2 separate regions of the Homo sapiens genome follow, and region 1 is linked to region 2. Evidence: fine-mapped expression QTL. A gene starts in region 2. The other region holds a variant in brackets. All regions are shown on one strand. Distances are between the middles of the regions.

Evidence for each region. PIP is the estimated chance that this variant, and not a neighbour inherited with it, causes the effect.
Region 1: its variant is the best candidate, but not a certain one, in a credible set for the expression of TNFSF8 in lung (TOPMed, PIP 0.70).

Annotation. Positions count from the first base shown.
Region 1 is chr9:114,866,203-114,870,604 of GRCh38, forward strand. No RefSeq gene overlaps it. Among named protein-coding and RNA genes, the nearest start is that of TNFSF8, 62 kb to the right of the region's middle. The variant G/A (reference allele first, on the strand shown) is at 2,255.
Region 2 is chr9:114,927,867-114,932,268 of GRCh38, forward strand. TNFSF8 (TNF superfamily member 8) reads right to left here and starts at 2,725. Exons shown (of 4, transcript NM_001244.4): 1 at 2,243-2,725. The coding sequence starts at 2,437. RefSeq lists an enhancer at 1,819-2,378.

The DNA.
Region 1 (4,402 bases), 62 kb before region 2:
TGGAGCATTTATCCATCAACTGCCATCCATCTCTGGGTCAGGCTTGACTCTGCAAATGTCACTATTTTCAAACTGCCAGGCTGCACTTGCATTAGGGCTTAGCAGACTTCCATGGTTTTGGAGAAATCCTTGAGGCAGAAGAGCAGAGGCATCATGACACACATAGGCAAGAACCTGTCCACATGTGTGAAACAGCCTAGTATGTGCTGAAATCAGGGCAATGCCCAGGGGCTGTGGCAAGGTATGATTTTCCCAGCTTAGTAATTATTCTAGGGCTGTAGAGAATATGGTGTAATTGCAGAAAAATTATGGACACAAAGTGTCATAATTTAATTCTAGACAGAGCCAAAGGCTGGAAATCCAGTATGGAACAAAGTGGCTCTATGGTGAAATTGTTAAAAACATGGTCTCTGGTACAAGCCCAAATCCTGTCTCCAACATTTGTTATATTTGTGACTTTGAGCAAGTTAACTAACTTTTCTGTCTCTCAGCTTCCTCACCTAGACAATAAATTGGGGTTGATAATTGTTCCCACTTCATAAAGTTGTTGTGAGGACTAAATTGTGTGTGTGTGTGTGTGTGTGTGTGTGTGCATGTGATTATATATACATTTGATGTCACACCAATAGTGTCTGAAATTTGGTGAGCACTGTTTAACTGGTTGACTGTTTACATCAACCCAGGGCTGGGATTCTGGACTTGGGAGCTATAACATCAGCCTATCTCGGCCTTTTTCCATTGGTAGTACACATTGGAGCTTAGTTAAATGGAAAAATTCATTGAGCTCCTATAGAAGCCAGCCGCTGGCTTTCCTCTTCTACTCTTTATCTATGAACTGCTTTCCTTCCTTTGATTTTATGAAGTGGAGGTGAAGAGGAAGGAGCATAGGACTTGGAGAAATGAATTGCAATTCCTGGCTATACTTTATCAACCACTGGTTGTGATTTGGGAAACCACTTTGCTTTTGAATTCTCACGTTTATAAAGTGAATATAATCTAATCTTGCTTCACTGTGTTGCTATGAGAATTAAATAAAGTGATATAAGCAAAATATTATAAAAATTGATACATATGCTAAAAATTTTGTTTTAGTATTAGGGTGTACAAAAGTAATTGTGGTTTTACCGTTACTTTCAGTGGCGAAAACCACAATTAATTTTTCACCAACCTAATAGAATGTCAGTGTTCTCAATTCTGTCTGGGCCTGTGGAGTTTTAAAATATACAATTTTTCGCATTCTAGTCCCAAGATCGTTGAGTGTACTTGGAAGGGGACCAAAAGGCATCATAATTTAAAAAAAATCTAGTCAATTTTGATGATCAGACAGATTTGAGAACCATTAAACTATTCTGTGCTATGAAACAGGGATTATGCCTTATTCAACTTGGTATTCTCACTGGCTAACACAGTTTAGTATATAGTGTAATCAATGAGTGCTTTTTTATTTTAAAATAAAAGGGCAAATCTCGTTACTTAGAAAAACAGAAGAAAGTTACAGCACTCCAGGAGTTGCTCCACTCTCCAAAACTGCGAAACTGCGAAGGTGTCTTGAACCACCTTCCTTACGTTGAATTGTTGGCTTGTCACTTAAGTACCTGAGCTAATTTATACCCACGAATATAATACTTGAGCAGTTTACACTACCTTATGCTCACAATCAGGATGAATGACAATCTTTGCCCTTTCTACTTCAAAGATGGCTGTGAAAATTAAGGAGACAATAGATAAGAAAATGATTCTCGCTGGGCGCGGTGGCTCACGCCTGTAATCCCAGCACTTTGGGAGGCCAAGGCAGGTGGATCACGAGGTCAGGAGATCGAGACTAGCCTGGCCAGCATGGTGAAACCCCGTCTCTACAAAAAATACAAAAATTAGCTGAGCGTGGAGGCACATGCCTGTAATCCCAGCTACTTGGGAGGGAGGCAGGAGAATTGCTTGAACCCAGGAGGCGGAGGTTGCAGTGAGCCGAGATCACACCATTGCACTCCAGCCTGGGTGACAGGGCGAGACTCCGTCTCAAAAAAAAAAAAAAAAAAAAAAAAAGTGATTTTCAGGCTACAGAATGCTATAAATATATAGGGAATTCATGTTATTAAAAAGGAATATACACTAAGTAAACTTGTAGTTCTCTAAGACTCAATTATATTGTGACTGTTGAAGAGAGAAGATTTTTTTTTTTTTTTTAGATGGAGGCTTGCTGTTGTCAGCCCAGGCTGAAGTGCAATGGCATGATCTCAGCTTACTGCAACCTCCA[G/A]CTCCCATGTTCCAGCAATTCTCCTGCCTCAGCCTCCCAAGTAGCTGGGATTACAGGCGCATGCCACCACACCTGGCTAATTTTTGTATTTTTAGTAGAGACAGGGTTTCACCATGTTGGCCAGGCTGTTCTTGAACTCCTGACCTCAGGTGATTTGCTTGCCTTGGCCTCCTACAGGAGTGAGCCACAGTGCCCGGCCGAGAGAATATTCTTTAGTCAGATTCTTTATACTCACAGATTAAATACTGAGTTCAGTAAAGTGATTCAGAGACATGGAATTCTTTAAAATAAAGAAACATGGGAAGTTGAAATTATAAGATCGGGCAGAGGCATACTGGCTAAGACAACCCAAGAGAATATAGAAAGATCACAGCGTTAATATCAGGAAAGTAAAATTCAAGGCAAAAGTTGTTGAATAGGTCAAAAAGAAATGCTGTATAATGATAGAATTTGTGACTCATAATGGAATATAACTGCCATGAATAGTTATGCACCAATGAACATAGCACAAAAATATTAGAAGTAAAATCTTCAGAAAATATAAGAAAAATTTGACAGAATCAATATTGTAGTGGAAACATTTATTACACCTTTTTGGAACTTTGGCAAATCCAGTGGATACCAAGATAAAGAGAAAGTGAACATAATTTAGAAGATATTTTTATAGAAATAAATTGAACCCTAAAAGTAGAGAATAAACTTTTGATAAAGTGCTCATGGGACAAAACTTTATCATATCTTAGGCCTAGCAATGCCCTAATAATTTTTCCAAAGAAAAAATACTACTGATGTGGGCCGTTCAATATTGTTGCCACAATTCACATCTGGCTATGGAGCACTTGAAATGTGGCTTGTGTGAATTGAGATGAGAGGTAAGTGTCAAATACACAACATATTTCAAAAACTTGGTGCAGAGATTGCTGGCAAGGTGGCCAAATAGGAACAGCTCTGGTCAGTAGCTCCCAGTGAGATTGACACAGAAGGCTGGTGATTTCTGTATTTCCAACTGAGGTGCCCAGTTTATCTCACTGGGACTGGTTGGACAGTGGGTGCAGCCTACGGAGGGCGAGCTGAAGCAGGGTTGGTGTTGCCTCACCCGGGAAGTGCAAGAGGTTGGAGAATTCTCTCCCCTGCCCAAGGGAAGCCATGAGGGACTGAGCCTGGGGAACTGTGCACTCTGGCCCAGATACTGTGCTTTTCCCACTATCTTCACAACCCACAGACCAGGAGATTCCGTCTAGTGCCTATGCCACCAGGGCCCTGGGTTTCAAGCACAAAAATTGGGCAACCGTTTGGGCAGACACTGAACTAGCTGCAGGAGTTTTTTGTTTTGTTTTGTTTTGTTTTGTTTTGTTTTTTTCCCCATACCTCAGTGGTACCTGGAATGGCAGCAAGACAGAACCATTCACTCTCCTGCAAAGGGGGCTGAAGCCAGGGAACCAAGTGATCTGGCTTGGCCGGTCCCACCCTTATGGAGCCCAGCAAACTAAGATCCACTGGCTTGAAATTCTTGCTGCCAGGACAGCAGCAGTCTGAGATTGACCTGGGATGCTCGAGCTTGGCTGGGGGAGGGGCATCCACCATTGCTGACATTTGAGTAGGTGGTTTTACCCTCACAGTGTAAACAAAGCCTCCAGGAAGTTTGAACTGGGTGGAGCCCACTGCAGCTCAGGAAGGCCACTGTTGCCAGACTGCCTCTCTAGATTTCTCCTCTCTGGGCAGGGCGTCTCTGAAAAAAAGGCAGCAGCCTCAGTGGGACTTATAGATAAAACCCCCATCTCCCTGGGACAGAGCCCCTGGGGGTAGAGGCAGCTGTGGATGCAGCTTCAGCAGACTTAAACATCCCTTCCTGATGGCTTTGAAGAGAGCAGCCAACCTCCCAGCACAGCATTTGAGCTCTGCTAAGGGTCAGACTGCCTCCTCAAGTGGGTCCTCGACCCCCATGTATCCTGACTGGGAGACATCTCCCAGTAGGGGCCAACAGGCACCTCATAGAGGACAGCTCTGGCTGGCATCTGGCAGGTGCCCCTCTGGGACAAAGCTTCCAGAGGAAAGAACAGGCAGCAATCTTTGCTGTTCTGCAGCCTCAGCTGGTGATACCCAGGCAAACAGGGTCTGGAGTGGGCCTCCAGCAAACTCCAGCAGACC
Region 2 (4,402 bases):
TCTCTTCACTTGTCTGAGTTCTTCCTGTTTTCAAGTCAGTCTACATTCCATCTTCCTATAGGAAACCCTTCCTGATAACTCAAGTTAATGGGAAAATGATGCTTTTTTTTTTCTTGTTAGGTCTTACAACAGTTAAGGTCTGAGGAATTTATTGAAAATGATATGTGCAATGCATTTGACACTTTATATACCACGGCTACTATTAACATGGCAAGCCTTAATTTTAAGGAAGCAACTGATATTTCCTGGTCTAAGAAATCACAGCACACCGCACTGTACAATCAGATTGCACAGTGAATCTTTTCATATCCAAACATGAGGGGTAAGTCAAGGAAGTGGATGCACAAGAAGATAAAGCTCCCAAGAGAAGAGTGGGTGCAATGTTTCTTAGTGCTTCTGTGGCTGTCTGTATTGGCAAAGGGGATGCTGCTTGCATCAAGCAATCAAGCAGTATTGGCTCTACCACTTTCTCAGGGTGACGTAGTTCAAGCCCTGTTCCCTCTCTGCTCCTCATTTTCCACATTTACAAAAATGAGGCAGAAAGATCTGCTCTGGTTCTTTTATAGAAGAAATCAATTCAACTAAAAGTTGGATATGAATGAGCTCTGAAGTTCTCTCTAGCTTTATATATCACCATCGCCACCCATTTTTCCACCATCTCTCTCTCTCTCTCAGCAGTTCTAGTTGGATCCTTTAACTAAAGAACTTCTTAAAGGACACTTCAATTTCTTTTCTTTGGCCATTGCTATAAAATGACATACCCTTGGTTCACTCCAAATTAGAATTACAGAAATTGCAGAGCCCCTGCAGAAGAAAAGATGTCCTAAAGTGTTTTCAAGATTATTATACTTAATAGATGTAGATAAGCCATTAAATTATGAGTTTTAAGAATTCCACTATCTAAATCAAATATTTGCAACTCCTTCTTTTCACTTTTGTAGAGATATGAGCTTCAAAGCTTCCATTTAATTTCAAAGCTTGATGACACTTGAGAAATAGATATCAAAGCCTTTTAAAGCCTAGTTCTTTCCAGCAATTGATAAGCTATAGAGTACTTGGCCTAAGAAAACTGAAGAAAAACCAGAATAAATTCAGCAGGATTATAATACCACGAAAAGTAGGCACTATGAAGTAAGAAACAGAAATATTCTCACTTTGGCAGGTCATGTGGGTGGGTGCAGCTCTTAAATTACCCATTAACAACTTCATCAAAAAATTCATGAGCAATATATGCTATTACTACAGCATTTTCTATATAATATATACTGGTAGATTCTCTGTAAACACCAATTTTCTAAAATATGAAGAAGCTTCCTCTTTCTCCTCCTCTTCTGTTTTCAGAAACAAATCTTACCATTTACTTCAAAGTAAATCTCCGAAGACAGTCTGACCCTGTACAGTGTGTACCCAACGATTGCTTAGTATTGTGAGGAACATCAGAGAGAACAGGTGCTAAAAACCTTTCAACTTTCTGCTTCTATGTGCTGTTTCTTTTTTTTTTTTTTTTGTGACGCCCTAACTTCTTCAAAGTTGTGGCTTAAGAGGAAGCTTTCGATTTGTCTTGCTGGCTTTAACACCAAAATGTCCAAAGCTCTAAGAAGCCATGGTCTTCTCTTTCGCCTCCTTTCCTTCTAGACCTTGGCCTCTGAAACTTAGCTCCTTGTATAAAACAAAAGCAAAAACAAAACTCTTGGCAATGGGTGAGGCCTCAGAAACCTCCAGGACACTCAGACTTAGGATATAGAACCTCAGAATCCAGTCTGAAGTCCTTGAAGACATGATAACAACTTGTGCAAATGTGTTATCAGGTTTCTCTATTGCTTCCTTCCTTGATATGGGTCTCTGGCTCATTAAGATTTAAATCTTAACTTTAAAAGGCCAATAGCTCCCCTCCACTGTTTTGCTCAGACAGATCTGCAAAGTTTTAAGATGATGGTCTAACAATATTTTTCTCAACAAGCCAAATTATTTTAGAGAGTTAAGTTCCTCTTTCTTTTCTCCCTTTCTCATATATATATATATATATAATATATACTGTATAATATAATATATATTATGTAACATAAGTGTATTACGTTATACAGTATATACTATAGTATATATATATATATAGAGAGAGAGAGTTTATTTATTTAATTTTATTTTGTGCTCTTAACCAACAAACGAATATCATTTGTTCCCAGGGCTCTTTCTCTCGGGAAAACAACAAGAAAAGGAAAGGGAGGAAGAGGAGTCCACTTACCGTCCTCTGAACGACCAACACCATAATAGTGGCCACCGTGAAGACAAGGCACAGAGCCAGAGTGGCTGTGGTCAAATAGAAATAGCTGCGGCTCGTGGTCCCCAGGTGGCTGGCCACGGAGCCCGCCGGCACATGCATGGCTGTGTCTCCAGGAGGGGCCATTCCGTTGAGTGCTTGCTGCAGCCCTGGGTCCATTCTTTATATAGTCTTCCCCACATCACACCTTATCTCTCTTCATCTGATTCAGTTCTGGGCCCATCTCTGTTCCAAGAAGGATTCTCCCCCTGAATCCTGAATCATGTGACTTGGAAAAAAACCTTCACCTGCTGCCTGGTGGAGAAACTCTTCTCTGGGGGCGTGAGGCGAGAGGCGGCAGCAAGGGTGGGGGAGAGGTTCATTTTTCATTGCCAGGGATTAAGTTGTGTGCAGAGAAACTAGCTACAGAGAAGGTGGCTGATGTCAGAGGGCGCGTAGGAAAATGACGGTTCCCCGACTGTGTGTGTGTATGTGTGTGTGTGTGTGTGTGTGTGTGCATGCGTGCGCACACACAAAGCAACTTCTGTTTCGTTTAGACTCTGCCACAAAACGCCTTCCTGTTCAAGAAGCTGCACCTTCTTTCAGCGAGGCCTGTGGCTCAGAAGACCTCCCCAGATAATGAGTCCTTGCTGGGTCTCAGGGAGGCCGGATCCCTCGGACTGCAGTGTAATAACTCCAAAGGGTTCGGTTTGATAGGCTACTGCTGAAAAAGGGACATGCTGCAGGTTCCCTGGGGGAAAAAGGGCACACAAATGGAGATATTTCTCCAAAGGGGGACTGGCTCATGGCAGTATGAAATTTGGGGTTCAAAGATACTGTCAGAAAGCAGGAATCTGGAAATATCAATCTTTTGAACAAACACTCCTGCAGAAGTTTTGGGATCTGTTAAACTGGCAGATGAACCTGGACCTGCCGTAAAACTCATGAAGAGGGGAAGGAATTGGCAGTGAGATGGTGTGGTGTGGAATATGGGGGCTGTGTGTGTTCTGCGTGGTGTACTATGTAGTGTGTGTGTATTTGTGGTATGGGGGTATGTGTAGGTGTTGTGTGTTCTCTATGGTATATGTATGCAGTGTGTGTGTGGTGTGCATTTGTGATCTGCAATGCATGCCGAGTGTGGTGCGTATGTAAGTGTTGTGTGTGGTGTGTATGTATGTGTTGTGTGTGGTGTGTTGTGTCTTGTGTATGTATGTGTTGTGTGTGTATGTGACTACTATAATTGAACCTCTACTGTCTCAGGCACAGCGCTAGGAGTTACATGTGGCTTCATTCCACTTCCACCTCCACCCTCCGAGGCAGGCAATGTTTATTTTTTACAGATGGGAAAACTGAGGCTCAGGGAGGATGAAAACTATCTCAACCTAAGTCGCAAGTGTCGATCACTGAAAGAACTTGGGTGCACTTTGCAGCCTGCCTGGCTGAAAGCTCGTGCTAAGTCATTCAATCTTCACTGCACCTGAAAGCTAAAACCTGAAGTGTGGTCTCAGCCCTTTCCCTTCTTAGCCTTGGGCCATCATACAAGTCTTTATGGCTTTCTCTGTTCCCAATCTGCATTACAGTCATCAGGAAGACCAAGCGAGATGATGTCAGAGTACTCCATGAATAAAAATAGATTTGGGGATGGTGTTGGACAATTCCTGTTAAACATCCCAAGCTGTCTACTGGGCTAAGTCTGGAATTTAGATACAATAGACAGATTACCTGGGGGACAGAGTCAGATCACATCTGTGGTTACTAATGATCTCCATTTCAAAATACCGTTTAAAATGTTAATCACTGCATAGCTGCTGCCTCCAGATGTGGGCCTTTGAAAGCTCCATTTGGTATCACCGTGGAAGAAGCTCATTCTGCATAGCACCTCCTTTCCTTTCTGCTCACTTTTTGTCTGCAGCGCATCACTTTGAGCCAGCAGAGATCCCAGATGCCCCTAAGGAAACGTCCTGTGTCTAAAGCCAAGCTTGGATTATTACCACTGCTGTTCTTGCATAGAACCAAAACTTCTGAGCATCTCCCAAATTAGATCAGGCTTTAGGATTTGGTCTGGATATTTCCTCCCAGTGAGTCTGTAAAAGCATAGATCCTGGAGACGAAAGAGACATCAAGAGATAAATTGTTTTCTTGGGC